2 linked regions of the Homo sapiens genome follow. The protein of the gene in region 2 binds, or shares a complex with, the protein of the main gene of each other region. Each region holds a gene or a part of one and is shown on either strand. Other genes may lie near its edges.

Region 1 (7,948 bases), on a different chromosome or scaffold from region 2:
AAACTTTATTATTGAGTTAACCAAAACTTTACCAAATCTCAGTCCTTAGCTATTCTGTTGCGAAGAAGTGAGAGTTTACTACCATTAACAAGGCTGCAGATGTACACTGCTACTGGCAGAACTATCCCTAGAGTGGCAAAACTCTACATTTCCCAAGGGAACATATCTGTGGGTCATGTTTTGCTTTGGAGACAGTAGTAACTCTAGGAGGTGAACACAGAACGTTCTACATATTTAGAAATAGAAAAAAGAAATAGCCCTTAACAATTAATCCCACACTCTCACCCTCATTACCTCTTCATTCTATAGATGCTCTCAAGCTTCTTGTGACTTTTGTTGCAAGATGTTGTGACATGGCATCTGACTCCCTATTGATCAGCAGGGTTAAAATCCTCCTGGGTTTTCCTATCCACAATGTTCTGTGAATTGCTATATTTAAACTAGCTTTTTTTTTTGAGACGGAATCTTGCTCTGTTCCCAGGCTGGAGTGCAGTGGCACACTGTAGAGTGGCAAATGAAGACATATTTATCTGATCCTCTGATATGAAATCCCCTATTAATAAACACCTTTCTTAAAAGTGCTATATAAAAGTATGCTTATAATAGGAATGTTTCCTTTAATTTGTCTAGAATTGAAAGGGAAATAGGCAGGGGGGTTCAAAAAACAAAAGGGAAATTGAAGGCATCCAGAAACTTATTTTATTTTTGAGACCGAGTCTCGCTCTGTCACCCAGGCTGGAGTGCAATGGTGTGATCTCGGCTCACTGCAACCTCCACCTCCCAAGTTCAAGCGATTCTCCTGCCTCAGCCTCCCAAGTAGCTGGGATGACAGGCACCTGCCACGGTGCCTGGCTAATTTTTGTATATTTAGTAGAGGTGGGATTTCACCATGTTGGCCAGGCTGGTCTCAAACTCCTGACCTCAGGTAATCCGCCCGCCTCGGCCTCCCAAAGTGCTGGGATTACAGGCTGAGCCACCATGTCCTGCCTAAACCAACTTTTGTGAAATGGCTTTTTAAGGTAATGTCATGAACCACTTCATTCCTCTGCCAGGGTCTTATTTAACCCTTCAAAAACATGGGTGGGCCCTATATAATGTGACTTCATTCTACATTGGATCCCCACAAAGCTAGTCTTGGCTTTTCACTTGGAACATGCCCAATGCTGATACAAAGTAAAGATTCACTATAGATCTTATTGCTATCCATCGTACGTTATAAAACTTGTCTAAATATTTAAAGGTTTAAAACAAGCCTGCGCAGTGGATGTCAAGAGTAAAGTACGTTTCATAGTAAAATTAAAATGCCATTAAAATTTTGTTCTTGTGGGGCTGGGTGTGGTGGCTCATGCCTGTAATCCCAGCACTTGAGGAGGCTGAGGCAGGCAGATCACCTGAGGTCAGGAGTTCAAGACCAGCCTACCCAACATGGTGAAACCCCTGTCTCTACTAAAAATACAAAAATAAGCCAGGCATGGTGGCTGGTGCCTGTAATCCCAGCTCCTCGGGAGGCTGAGGCAGGAGAATTGCCTGAACCCAGGAGGCGGAGGTTGTGGTGGGCCGAGATCACACCATTGCAGTCTGGCCTGGGCGACAAGAGCAAGACTCCGTCTCAAAAAAAAAAAATTGTTCTTGCTTTGTAAATGCTGCTTTCTTTTCTTCATTTTGGAGCGGGGAGCCTTGCCGATAGTCAGTGACTTGTACATTTGTTTACTGGCATTTGATAGGCTGCTCCTTATCTTGCATGAAAAAATAAAGACCTAGCCAGTCTAATCCTGCTGGGATTCATATCAGTGGCCCCAGGGGGTTGAGATGCTTCAAAGCTACTGTTTAAATGGCAAAACCAAGTATCTTACTTGGATAATACTAAAGTATGTCCTTTATGGCTTTATTGGAATCTGAATTGTAAACATTTGGTACAGTGGATTAAAGTTCTGCTTTAAAATTAATTTCTGAGTATGTGAGATATGCCTTTTCTTTGTGACTTTTGCAGTGCAGTGAATTCAGGCTGTTTTTAAAAGGTCAAGTTTTTAAAAGGCAGGGGCATTAGTGCTAGGGCTGCTTGAAGATGAACAGCTAATGGAGAAATCCTACAGTGAAAGGGGTTGTTTTTTTTTTTGTTTTTTGTTTGTGTTTTGAGGTGTCATTCTATTGAGTGTTTATATATATATATATATATATATATATATATATGTATATATCTCCATCCTAATTGTTGGCATAACATTAAAATTAGTGACACAACACAGGTTTCTTGTATAGGTTTTCAGAAACTAGCAGTCCTCAAAATAACAGACCAAGCAATGTAGTTTTTGCTAATGGCACTTGCTGTGACTCATGATAGTCTACTGTTGATGAGCATTCCAACTAAAATAGCTTTCACTTCACCATTGATTAACATGGCTACCTTGCTAAAACATTTTCTGAAACCAAAAGCTAGAGTGATCATTCATAGCATTGTCTTATTAAAAGACTATGTCATACTGTATCGTAGAAAAAGCCATTCTGGGTAGTAGGATTTGCTTCCTGGTCTATTAGGTTATCTGTTCTCCCTTCTAACTTGAGGTAATGTCTGAAAACAGTGCCATTCAGGTATTGCTTAGGTAACTAAACCAGTGAAACCAGTGAAACTGCCTTTATACTGTTACCAAGAACAGCAGACTCCCATTAAAAAAAAAAAAAAACTCTTATTACCCTACTCAAATTATTCATCTTTAAAAAGGCATAGGGTTTTTTTTTAATGTTTATCATCTTGACTTTTTTTTTCTCTTGAAAATTTTTGGATTAATTTGAAGATCATTTCAAAATGACCCAGGATATCACGATCTATTTTTCCTCTTCCTAAATTATTTCTCAAAACAGTGTAATTTCTATGTGTGATGACGTAGCAGTCACTAACAACCTCAGCGCACTTTTTGGTTAGATATTCCACTCCAAATAGCTAAAATCAACTGCTTTTGGGATTCTAAATGTACTTAAAGTTACAGGGTCTGTATGAAAATGCCAGACACTAATTAAATTTTGGTGGCCCATTCATGATACGGCTCTTTTATCTCCGGATTCTGAGATTGAAAAGGTGACTTGATCAAGCTATTGAATTACTGTAATAAAACAATTACTCCCTTAGAATTTTAATTTAGAATTTGTCTACTTCCAAAAAGGGTTTAAAGCAGTTATTACTAGACTGGCATTAGGTTATTTCAAATGTTGCGGAACAGAGGATCTTCGTGTATTTAGCTTAACAATACAAAAAGAAATTTTGCAAGCATAAATATTCACTCTTACAACATGGTGGCAAGGCTTTTCTTTGCAGAACAATCTTTGCCCTCTTACCTGCCAGACTCTTCTCTCATGCTCAGTATGTGAGACAGTTAAGTAAAGGGAAAAACACTAAAAGCAACTAAAATGATTGGCAAACTTCTCACTGTAACCTAAACTGCTTAGCATACAAAACTATCGTCTACCCAATAGGGTTTTATGTCCTTTAACTGAAAAGGACACTAAAAATAATTATTGTGGACTTGAGCTTTTCTCTTTCGGCGGGGCGGGGGGTGGGGGGGGAGAATCACCTCTCTTACAAAGATAAAAGGCACAGAACTAACGTCTTTCATCCTTTATTGTATTGGTGCGATTATGAAATATTATTATGGCTTATACTTTAGCAAGAAAGTACCAGAAAGGTTATTATTAATCGACAATGAATGCCGTTGATACCTTCATGCTCTTTGAAGACAGGATGCTCCGGCTTTGAAGCGCTACATTTCTACATTGCTAACCTACAGGAACCTATGTTGAGGTGGTCCCACCGAAATACACGGCTAATAGTTCATCTCTTTCCTCCAGGAACCTTCAGGTTTTTTTTTGTTTGTTTTTTTTTTGAGACGGAGTCTCGCTCTGTCGCCCAGGTTGGAGTGCAGTGGCGCGATGGAACCTTCGGGTTTTACTAAGCATCCTTACCCTAATTATCTAAATCTTTGAGACGTAAATTATTTGATGTGGCTAAAAATCCTCCTGCTAGAATTTAGGTCCAATCCTTTAATGTTCGGATACTCAAATTCTTTAACGAAACTGATCACTGAGCTAGGCCGACACAAGTCCGCCAAAATGTCCGCAGAAACGTTAAGAAAAGCTGTCATAAGGCCAGCTTGAAAGACATCATAAAAGGCCTTCGCTGTCCTTTGAGTTAATTATCTAACACCCGAAGAGAGTGCCAGTTCTAGTTAGAATCCGCGCGTCAGGTTCTCCAACAGTCAGAAGGGCTTGTGTGAGGGCAGGGAAGATTTTAAACCCCGTTTCAGGCCCCCTCCCTAGGCTGTAGGAAACCACCCACTCTGAAGCCCGGCGGGGGAGGAGTGCTGCAGCCAGCTGCCGAGGGAGCGCTCTGCGGCGAGGCCGTTTCCCTGAGTCACGGAGAGGGCGGGAGGCTGCGCCCGTCTGCCCCCGCCACGTCCTCCTGTGAGGGGCTCAGTCGAAACAGGCAGCGGTCGCAGGGAAACGAAGCGGCACCCGTCATGCCTCAAGGTGGCCCAAAAGCCTCTTCACTCCCAGGAGACGCCGCATTTCCTTAAAACGAGCTCTCCATTTCTGGCAGCAATCAGCCGACCCTTCCCCATCAGTATCACGTGCACCTGGAAGTACGTGGGTGGGACCTAAAGCGCCCACGGAAGTGACGTCGGTCGCCCCGAGTCGCATGATGTGGCAAAATGAAAAAAAAAAAGTGGGGGGAGAAAGAGAAGACTGGCGAAAGTGATGAGTCTAAAAAAGTAGTCCCTCCGGTTCCTCTGTTTCCCCCCATGTGGCGTCAGGAAGCGAGGCACCGGGCGCACTGCGCCCCGAATTCCTGCGCCCGCCGCGCGCGGCGCTCCGTGGAGGGGTACATAAGGCGGAGGGGGTGAGGCGACTGGGCGGAGTTCTGTCGCCGGGATCCTTCCGCTGGGCTCAGCCGTTTCCGGAGTCTGCGCTGCGCCCGGTTCCGCCATTGCGGCTCTCCTGGCCCCTGGAGCCTCCGCCCCCGACCCGAGCTCTTTCGTCTGCCTGCCAGTTTCCTGCGTCCCCGGAGAGGATCCTGCTGAGCCCAGCCTCCCCCCTCCCCTTCTCCTCCTCTCCCTTGGAGAGCCCGGGCAGCCACTGCCCCGCAGCCCCAGTGACAGGAGGAGACCATAACCCCCGACAGCGCCATGGCCCAGATTCTGCCAATTCGTTTTCAGGAGCATCTCCAGGTGCGGCCGGGCCCGGGCTGGTGAGGGCTGTGGAGAAGGTGGTAGGAAGGATGGAAGACGCTGGAGTCTGGGCCCGAGCAGTATCGGAGCTGGAGGGGCGGGGGGGTTGTCGGTGATTGGGGTAGGTGGAGGAGGGGGCACTATCTTGGAAAGCTTAAAATATTAAATGATGTGGGGCTTGGATGGAAAGGACAGGAGTTGGGGTGCAAAGAGCTGCAAGGACCAGGCCTGGATCCAAAGGCCTCTCGATCTTGCTTCCTGGATGGCCAGAACTGCGCGTACAAACTCTCTCCCCATTTTATTCATTTCATTCATTTGGGTAGGGGAGTGGGAGGGGGATTCTCCCTTGTTTCTACCAGAGCAAGGATTCTTATCCCCTGGGCCAGTGCGGGGCTGTCACCTTCCATTGCTCTCCTCTTTCCCTCATCGTGTCTGCACCCAGGAGTTGTGGGGCGGGTGGGTTGGGGAGGAGCAACCTTTTTTTTCCCTCCCTCTGCGGCTCTCAACTGAGAAAGGCACCTTCTCCGGTGGTGGGGGTTGGGGGTGGTGGTGAGGCGGTGGCTTTTCTCTTGCCTTCCCTGAGGCAGTAGGGACAGAAGGTCACTGAAAGAACGGAACGAGGGTAGAATGGGAGAACGCATTTCTTAGAGCTATGTCAATCTCAGAGTGTGTGCGGTCAAACTCCCTAAGGAAACTCGCCTCCCCTTCCCCCTTTTTTTATTTCTCTGGGGATGTTGTGGCTCTTAACCCCTCTTTGGTTCTGGAAGGTAGGAAAGAGTGATACAGAGGTTATCTTTTAGTCTTCTCGAGTAGTAGCAGGTAGTTTTGAATATCTTCTTCAGGATCGCATGGAATTGAACAGAGCCCTGGGGACAGCACAGCTGCTCTGAGACCTGCAGGGCTATTTGGTCTGTGACTGGCTTCCCTTTAGTAAGTTCTAGAGTTCTTCCCCATGGTTCCTTATCCTGGAGGCAACATATTGTTATCTGGCAACATGCCAGTGGCGGGCCTAGGCAGGTGACCATTGGAAGGCTTCACTGAATTAAACCTCTTCAGAGCTTTTGATTTTCCTGTGTCACCAATCCTGTTTTTTACTGTAGCTTAAATAATTTATTCCTATTAATTTGCTTTCTTCCCAAATATCCCCTTAAAGAAACCTGCCTCAGCTCAGTCGTCTGAAGGGCTAATTCCATAATGACAGGGAATGCAGTGGTTTGACATGACACTGATATCAGTGACCTATTAGACACTTTACCATTGAAGACCATTTTTATTTACATTTCCCCATTGGCATAGCATACATAAAGGATTCTTGTTAATAAAAGGTTTTAACATTCAGGCTATAAGTAACATAATTTCATATTTCTTTGCAAGTATTACCATGTTTGCACTAGCAAGGACTTATTTTCCTTTAAGGCTTGAAATGTAAAGAATAATAAATTTTTACCCATAAAATGAGTTAAATAATGCACTTTCCTCAGTCATCTATAATTTTCAAATAACTCATCTGAAGTAATGGAATATACCTTGGCAATAAAAACACTTTTACAGAGGGTTAAAAATGTTAAATAACAAAATGGACATTTTTTTTTGATCAATCCAAGTTTAGTTGCTGTGGTTGCTTTTGTTAAAGTGGGGTGGCAAATGAATGTGGAGAGTTGAGGGGTGCTGTTCTTAAGTGTGAGGGGAAAACGCGGGCTTATTTTCATATTAAACTGCATCTGAAATATCTTTCTGCAGACAAATGTTTATAAACCACACAGAGAATCAAGTACAGCTGCTCTTTATTTTCCACGGCAGATGTGTAGCTCACTACTAAATCTTGTGGTGGTTGGAGTAATAGCTTTTCATTTCTTTTAAAGAGGAGACAAGAATTGTTAAATGATCCCAAAGATTCGAACCCAACCTTGTCACTTATTAAAGACAAATTTAATACATGTCTGTTTTGTAACTGGATCAAAGTTTCTGCAGATGCTTGAATGAAGCCATTTTCTTCTCAAATAATTTGAAGATTTTGAATATAAAGCGATTTGCAAATTGAAAAATTCAGTCCTCTGTGTTTTGGATTGCTATGTCATGCCTAAACTTAAGCTTGCTTAGCTAATATGACTGTGCTCCAGTTGATTAATTGTGGAGCCCAAATAACTACAGCCTCTTTCATGATAATATATCTCCTAACTTCATATCATTATCTCCTCCCTTTTTAAAAATTAATAAGCATTTTGTTTTTTTGAGGAGACAGGGTTTTTGCTGGAGGTCAGTGGCACCATCACAGCTCACTGCAGCCTTGACCTACTGGGCTCAAGCCATCCTCCCACCTCAGCATCCTGAGTAGCTGGGACTACAGCCATGAGCCACCACACCTGGCTAATTTTTGTATTTTTTGTAGAGATGGAGTTTCATGTTGCCCAGGCTAGTCTCGAATGCCTGGGCTCAAGCAATCCTTTGCCTTGACCTCCCAAAGTGCTGGGATAATAGGTGTGAACCACCGAGCCCAACTAATAAGGATTATTTTAATTGGCATCTTTGGTCTTTGACCTCTGAGCTTCTACCAGTTTGCTAAGTAGCAGAAAACTTTCTGAAACACGTAGGATAAAAACTGGAAACAAGAAATGGGGAACTTAAGTGTGAGTGTAGAGTTACCTTGTGAAACTGTAAATGAACTTATTTTTATACCCTTTAACTACATTGTCCAACTGAAGGATCTCTTGTCATCAAAGCTTGGACCTACA
Region 2 (7,060 bases):
GTGCTCTGGGGTCCTAGGTAAACCTGAAAGGCAGTCTGAACACAAGGACTGCAAGTCCTAGGCAATTCCTAATGCTAGGCTTGCCTTACAGCCAGTGAACTAGCATGGTAAGTGACCTAGAGTGACACCAGCTGGCACACCTTGTGCCATACCTCCCCAAACCCCAGGCAGTGCAGCTCTCTGCAACAAAGTGACTCTTTCCTTCTGCTTAAGTAGAGGAGAGCAAAGAGTAAAGAGGACTTTGTCTTGTATCTGGGATACCAGCTCAGCCACAGTACGATAGGACATTGAGCAGGGTGATGAGGCTCCCATCCCAGGCCCTAGCTCCTAGACAACATTTCTAGACACACCTTGGGCCAAAAGGGAACCTACTGCCTTGAAAGGAAGGACTCAGTCCTGGCAGGATTCATCAGTCCTTGGGCCCTGAATAGCAGCAATACCAGCGAGTATGCTGTGGGCCTTGGGCTCTGAGATATGCTGGCTTCAGGGGTGACCCAGCACATTCCCAGCTGTGGTGGCTACAATGGAAGACTCCTTCTATTTGAGAAAAGCAGAGGGAAACATAAAGGAGGCTTTGTCTTGCACCTTAGGTACCAGTTCAGCCACAGAGGGGTAGAGCACCAAGAGGGTTCTTGGGGGAGTCCTCGAGTCCAGGCTTAGGCTCTTGACAGCATTTCTGGATCTGCCCTGGGCCAGAGGGGAGCCCACTGCCCTGAAGGGTGAGTTCTAGGCCTGGCAGCATTCACCGCAAGCTGACAGAAGAATGCTTGAGCTTTATGTGATCATCAGCCGTGGCCTGGCAGAAACCCCCATGAACAGGTGGTGGTGGTGGCTATAGGAGAGGCTCCTCTGCCTGTGGAAAGGGAAGGGAAGAGTTGAAAGGGCTTGTATTATGGTTTGAATGCCAGGTTAGCTACAGTAGAATAGAACATCAGGTAGGCCAGGCGCAGTGGCTCACACCTGTAATCCCAGCACTATGGGAGGCCGAGGTGGGTGGATCACCAGGTCAGGAGTTCAAGACCAGCCTGGCCAACATAGTGAAACCCTGTCTCTAATAAAAATACAAAAATTAGCCGGGTGTGGTGGCGGACGCCTGTAATCCCAGCTACTCAGGAGACTGAGGCTGGAGAATCACTTGAATCTGGGAGGCAGAGGTTGTAGTGAGCTGAGATTGCGCCATTGTACTCCAGCCTGGGCGGCAGAGACTCCACCTTAAAAAAATAATAATAATAATAATAAAAAGAACTTCAGGTAAATTGCTAAGATTTCTGACTCCAATCCCTGGCTCCCAGACAGCCCAGCTCTGGGAACAGCCGGGGCCTAGGGGAACTCACTGCCATGATAGGTGCTGGCTTAAGGTCTGATCCAGCACAGTCCCAGTGGTGGTGGCCACAGTGAGCCACCACCCTCAGTTCCAGCTGGCTCAGCAGAGAGAGACATTCCATTTATTTCGGAGCAAGTGAGTGAAAAGAACAAGAGTCTCTGCCTGTAATTCAGAGAATTCTTCCAGATCTTTGCCAAGACTATCAAGGTGGTACCTCTACAAGTCTGAAAAAACCACAGCATTATTAGGCTTGGGGCACAAGTCCCTTCAAACACCCTGAAAGCCTTCCCAAGAAGGACAGCCAAAAACAAGCCCAGATTGTGAAGACTACAATAAATACTTAATTTTTCAATGCCCACACACCAATGAACATCTACAAGCATTAACACCATCCAGGAAACATGATCTCATGAAATGAACTAAATAAGGAACCAGGGACCAATCCTGGAGAAACATAGATATAGGAACTTTCAGGCAGAGAATTCAAAGCAGCTGTTTTGAGGAATCTCAAAGAAAATCAACATAACACAGAGAAGGAATTCAGAATTCTATCAGATAAATTTAACAAAGAAGCTGAAATAATTTAAAAGAAGCAGAAATTCTAGGGTCAAAAAATATAATTGACATGCTGAAGAATGCATCAGAGTTTCTTAATAGCAGAATAGTTTTCTTTTCTTTTTTTTTTTTTGAGACAGGTTCCTACTTTTTTGTCCAGGCTAGGGTACAGTGGTGCGATCATAGCTCACTGTAACCTCAAACTCCTGGGCTCCAGTGATGTTCCCACTTCAGCCTCCCAAGTAGTGGGACTAGAGATGTGCGCCACCATGCCCAGCTAATATTGTATTATTATTATTATTATTATTTGGTAGAGATGGGGTCTTGCTATGTTGCCAGTGCTGGACTTGAACTCCTGGCCTCAACTGATTCTCCCATCTTGGCCTCCCAAAGTGCTGAAATTACAGGTATGAGCCACCATTCTCAGTCTCTTTTTTTTTTTTTTTTTTTTTGAGATGGAGTCTCACTCTGTCACCCAGGCCAGAGTGGAGTGGTGCGATCTCAGCTCACTGCAACCTCCACCTCCTGGATTCAAGCGATTCTCCTGCCTCAGCCTCCTGAGTAGCTGGGACTACAGGCGCGCACCACCACACCCGGCTAATTTTTGTATTTTTAGCAGAGACGGCATTTCACCATATTGGCCAGGGTGATCTTGATCTCTTGACCTCGTGATCCCCCCGCCTTGACCTCCCAAAGTGCTGGGATTACAAGCGCAAGCCACAGTGCCTGGCCAGAAGGGTGAACATTAGAGACTGACAACCCCACGTGCTGGAAAGCATGTGAAACAAGTGGAACTCTTATATGTGGCTGGTGGGAATTGTAAAATGGTACAACCACTTTGGAAAACTGCTTGGCAATTCCTTACAAAGTTAGACATGGGTGACGGCACCCGCCTATAGTCCCAGCTATTCAAGAGGCCAAGGCTGCAATGAGCTATGATTGTGCCACTGCTCTCTAGCCTGGGGGACGGAGAGACCCTGCTTCTAAAAAAAAAAAAAAATTTTAAGTTAAACATACCCAGAATGACCCAGAAATTCCACTCCTGTATTTCCTCAAGATAAATAAAATATGCCCACAAGGACTTGTACGAGAATGGTTATAGCAACTTTGCTCATCATCACCAAAAATTGAAAGCAATACAAATCCATCAACTGGTGAATGCATAAAGTATTCAATGGAATGCCTCTCAATAACAAACACTACTAACTTCTGGTTCACGCAGACCCAAAAGAGTACCTATCACCTTCATTTTTATAGTGCTAGAAATAAGAGGAGTGGTTGCTGATGTGGTGGGAGATGGACAGGAAAGAAACAGGCCACTCTTCTGAGTGATGGAAATGCTCTACGTCCTGATTGGGTGGTAGTTACACAGCTGTTTACATTTACCAAACTCATCAAATTGTCCACTGGGGGGGAAAAACTATTATTTTCACTGTATACGAAAACTTCGCCTCAACAAAAAATGAACTAAAAAAGAAAAAAAAGGGGAGGGGGGCTGGCGACGTTGAAAAGTAACGCTAAACTATGTAAGGATTTGATAATTGGGGTAAGCCTTTTCTTTAAAACGTCTAGTAAAGAAAACATTCCAAGAAGGTCTGCTAGATTCTGTGACTAAACAAGGACATTAAAAAGCCCTGAATCCAGCTTGGTCAACGTAGTGAGGCCCTGTCTCTACGGAATTTTTTTAAAGTTAGCCAGGCGTAGTGGTGCGCGCCTATAGTCCCAGCTACTCGGGAGGCTGAGGTGGGAGGATGGTTTGAACACAGCAGCTCAAGGCTGCAGTGAGCAGTGGTCGGTGCCCACTATACTCCAGCCTAAGGGACAGAGACCTTGTCTCAAAAAAAAGAAAAAAGAAAAAAAAAAAAAGCCTTGCGAGCTCTGGGGGAGATTTCCCGCAGCCCAGCTTTGCCAGGGACCCAGCCTCACCCCTCGGGCTCCACCGCCCACTCCCGCCCTTCACCTGACGTGAGCGCCCCGACTGCTCCACTCCTTCTCATCCCGCGTCGCGGTCCCGCCTATTTTCCCTCTCTCACCCATCTTTTGAACTGGCCCTTCACCTTTCAATCAATTCAAATATCGCACGGAGCAAACCAATCGCAAGCCTCGTTGAGTGGAAGGGGTGGGATCTTCCCCGGAAGTGTTGGTTAAAGCCCCTCCAATCAGCGGCTCGGTGCGGCAAGTTTGAATTTCGTGGAGGCTCGGGTTGTGAGGGTTCCTGCTTCGGAGTCGGCGGTGGTCGTCCAGACCGAGTGTTCTTTACTTTTTGTTTGGTTGAGGTTTCACGCTAGAAGGTGGCTCAGGTAGGTGGGTGCTGGAGAGCTGGACGGAGAACACTGGCCCGCTTCCGTTGAAGGTCTAGAAGGGTCTGAGGACCGGGGGCTGCGAGCGGGAGCAAGTCAGAGGCAGGCTCCTTTAGGACCGTGTTACCTGCCCTTCCCGAAGCTGATAATGCGAGCCTTTAGAAGAGTCCATATGTTTGCCCTGACCTCTGTAATAGTCAGCGTTTCACCACCGGGGCGTAATTGACCTTTGGGGTGAAACTGTTCTTCACTAGCTCCGACATTAAATTCCCGTAGCTCTTCCCAGGTCCCATGGCAACTAAAAACGCCCGGTTGAGAACCTCTAGTCAAGCAAGATTAACGCATTCTGGACTTTCAAGCTGGAGGAAACGCCACTCAGCCAAACAAAATTTAGGTGTGTGTGGAGCCAGGGCTGCCTTGCTTGGGATCCCAGCTTCACCACCTTTTAGATATGCTAATGTGAGCAGTTAATTGACCTCATCTGTATGAGAGCGATAATAGTTAACTACCTTTCAGGGTTATTCTGATAATTGTACCTTTAATGTTGTCCTCGCTCGCTCTTTCTCTTGCTGTGGATAGTGCTATCCTGTATTTAATACATAAGTCTTAATTTTTCTTCAATCTTTAGCGAATTAATATTGCAGGAGATAAATAGTAGAAGACAGTTCTTTATGAAAAGCACAGTCCATTGTCACTTTCCTTGGGTCTTAGAGGAGAATGTTATTAGCATGCAGGTCAGACAGATTCTCGTTTTTTATATTTTGTTGATTGCTTAGAATCATGTAACAATGTATTGCATTACTTGTGCCAATTTTTCTATTATCTGGAGTTTTCTAGTGGATTTAGTTAATTCTTGTTGAAGAATATACCATAGTGTGTCTATCACAGAGCCTCCCCCTTACCTTTTTTTGTTTTTGTTTTTTAACTGCCAAGACTTCTGAGAATCAGTATCCTTTCTCCAGTTTGGCTTGGTAGTTCTCTATACCAGCTACACAGGTGACCCCCTCAAACTTTCTAATTTTCTTTGTTCTCCCTAGTTGGATCTACTGACGTCGTCTTTATTGTCCTCTTTTGTTTTGCTTGAATACATTCTCAAAGATCTTTCCAAGAAAAAGGCATGTGCCAATTAAACTATATGATTTTGTGCGTGTGTGTGTGTGTGTGTGTGTGTGTATGGCTTTTCTTTTTTAAAATTTATAGAGACGGGGTCGTGTTATGTTGCCCAGGCTGGTCTCAAACTCCTGGGCTCAAGCAGTCCTGCCTCGACCTCCCAAAGTGGTAGGATTACAGGCCTAAGCCACCGTGCCGGCCTAAACTGTATGATTTCTTGTATGGATGAAAATAATGGAGCAAACTGATAGGGTTATTGTGAACTATATATTTGGTCTTGTTCTGTTTTCTGGCAAACAACTACTAAAATCCTTGGAGTCTTCAAAGTGGTACCTTTTTGTATGCTAATGATTGACTGATAGCTGGATGCCTCTAAATAGCTTCAGGATTGGGGCTGGTCACTAGACAGACCAAGGCAGGATTTCTCGAGAGTTGGCATTTTCAGCCCCACCTCACAACCTCTGGGGAGGGGAGAGGAGCTGAAGGTTGACTTGATCACCAGTGGTCAATGATTTAATCACTCATGCTTATGTAATGAAGCTGCCATAAAAACCAAAAAAAAACACCTGTGTTTGGAGAGCTTCTTAGGTGAATACATGAAGGTTCCTAAACAGTGGTGCTACCTGAGAGAGCATGGAAGCTCCTTGTTCCTTTCCACATACTTTGCCCTGTGCCTCTCTATCCAACTCTATCTGTATCCGGTTGCCTATTGATTATCCCTATATGACTAATAGGTACCTGGTGTGGGGTTTTTGTTTGTTTTTGGTTTTCTTTTGGCTTTAGAAGAAATGTTAGACTACCTGCATTCCTCATCATGGGTAAGGAAACCCTTGTGTACATGGTCCTTCACTTAACCTATTTTCACCTTTATTTCACGCTTTTCTTTTTGCAGTGTTCTCTGTGGTAAGCCCAGAGCCTCTTTTATTCTGGACTATCACTTACTGGCTTTCTCTTCACTGGTCAAGCAAGTTCCTATTTAAAACCCCCAAATAGGTAGCTTCTTATTCTCTGATAATCTTCTTCTCACTTTTCAGTGTTACATATTTATTTCATTGCACATTTTATATTTTTATTTCAGAAGGCCCTGAAGTGGGACAGGAAATGAACTGTAATCTTAATTTTTTAAATAATGAAAATTCATGTAAGTTGGGTTTTGTCCTTTTCCTTGACAGGATGTCTTCATCACATTTTGCCAGTCGACACAGGAAGGATATAAGTACTGAAATGATTAGAACTAAAATTGCTCATAGGAAATCACTGTCTCAGAAAGAAAATAGACATAAGGAATACGAACGAAATAGACACTTTGGTTTGAAAGATGTAAACATTCCAACCTTGGAAGGTAGAATTCTTGTTGAATTAGATGAGACATCTCAAGGGCTTGTTCCAGAAAAGACCAATGTTAAGCCAAGTAAGTAAAGGTCTGTTGTAATTTTAAGTACTTTGAAGAGTGAATAATAGTTGGTTTAATGCCTGTGTGAGTAAAAAACTCTGGCCAGAAGAGTTTTGAAATACCATTCTATAAATAACTTTCCTTTTTGGTCTTTTTCCTTTTTTTTTTTTTTTTTTTTTTAAATTACAAGAGACAGGGTCTCACTGTGTCACCCAGGCGGGAGTGCAGTGGTGTGCTCACTGTAACCTCAAATTCCTGGGCTCAAGGAATTATCTTGCCTCAGCCTCCCAAAGTGTGGGGATTACAGGTGTGAGCCACCGCGCCTGGCCCCTTAATAACCTGTTATCTACAACTAACTACTGTCTTTAAGGCAAAAGC

What was found. Proteins that work in one complex are often made in the same cells at the same time.
Region 1: the proteins of DLGAP5 (region 2) and CLTC are in contact, whole or in part, in a crystal structure (PDB 7ZX4), measured with the Homo sapiens proteins. Residues at the interface, in NP_055565.3 of Homo sapiens: Gly833, Asn834, Leu835, Ile836, Thr837, Phe838, Ser839, Pro840, Leu841; in NP_004850.1 of Homo sapiens: Val50, Arg64, Pro65, Ile66, Ser67, Ala68, Leu82, Lys83, Ala84, Thr87, Gln89, Phe91, Ile93, Lys96, Ser97, Lys98.

Annotation. Positions count from the first base shown.
Region 1 is NC_000017.11:59,614,958-59,622,905, forward strand, and holds the start of CLTC (clathrin heavy chain 1), read left to right. Parts: upstream 1-4,937; 5' UTR 4,938-5,174; coding exon 5,175-5,216; intron 5,217-7,948. UniProt on the Homo sapiens protein: Clathrin is the major protein of the polyhedral coat of coated pits and vesicles. Two different adapter protein complexes link the clathrin lattice either to the plasma membrane or to the trans-Golgi network.
Region 2 is NC_000014.9:55,188,582-55,195,641, reverse strand, and holds the start of DLGAP5 (disks large-associated protein 5), read left to right. Parts: upstream 1-4,056; 5' UTR 4,057-4,179; exon of another isoform or gene 4,180-4,573; intron 4,574-6,461; 5' UTR 6,462-6,462; coding exon 6,463-6,700; intron 6,701-7,060. UniProt on the Homo sapiens protein: Potential cell cycle regulator that may play a role in carcinogenesis of cancer cells. Mitotic phosphoprotein regulated by the ubiquitin-proteasome pathway.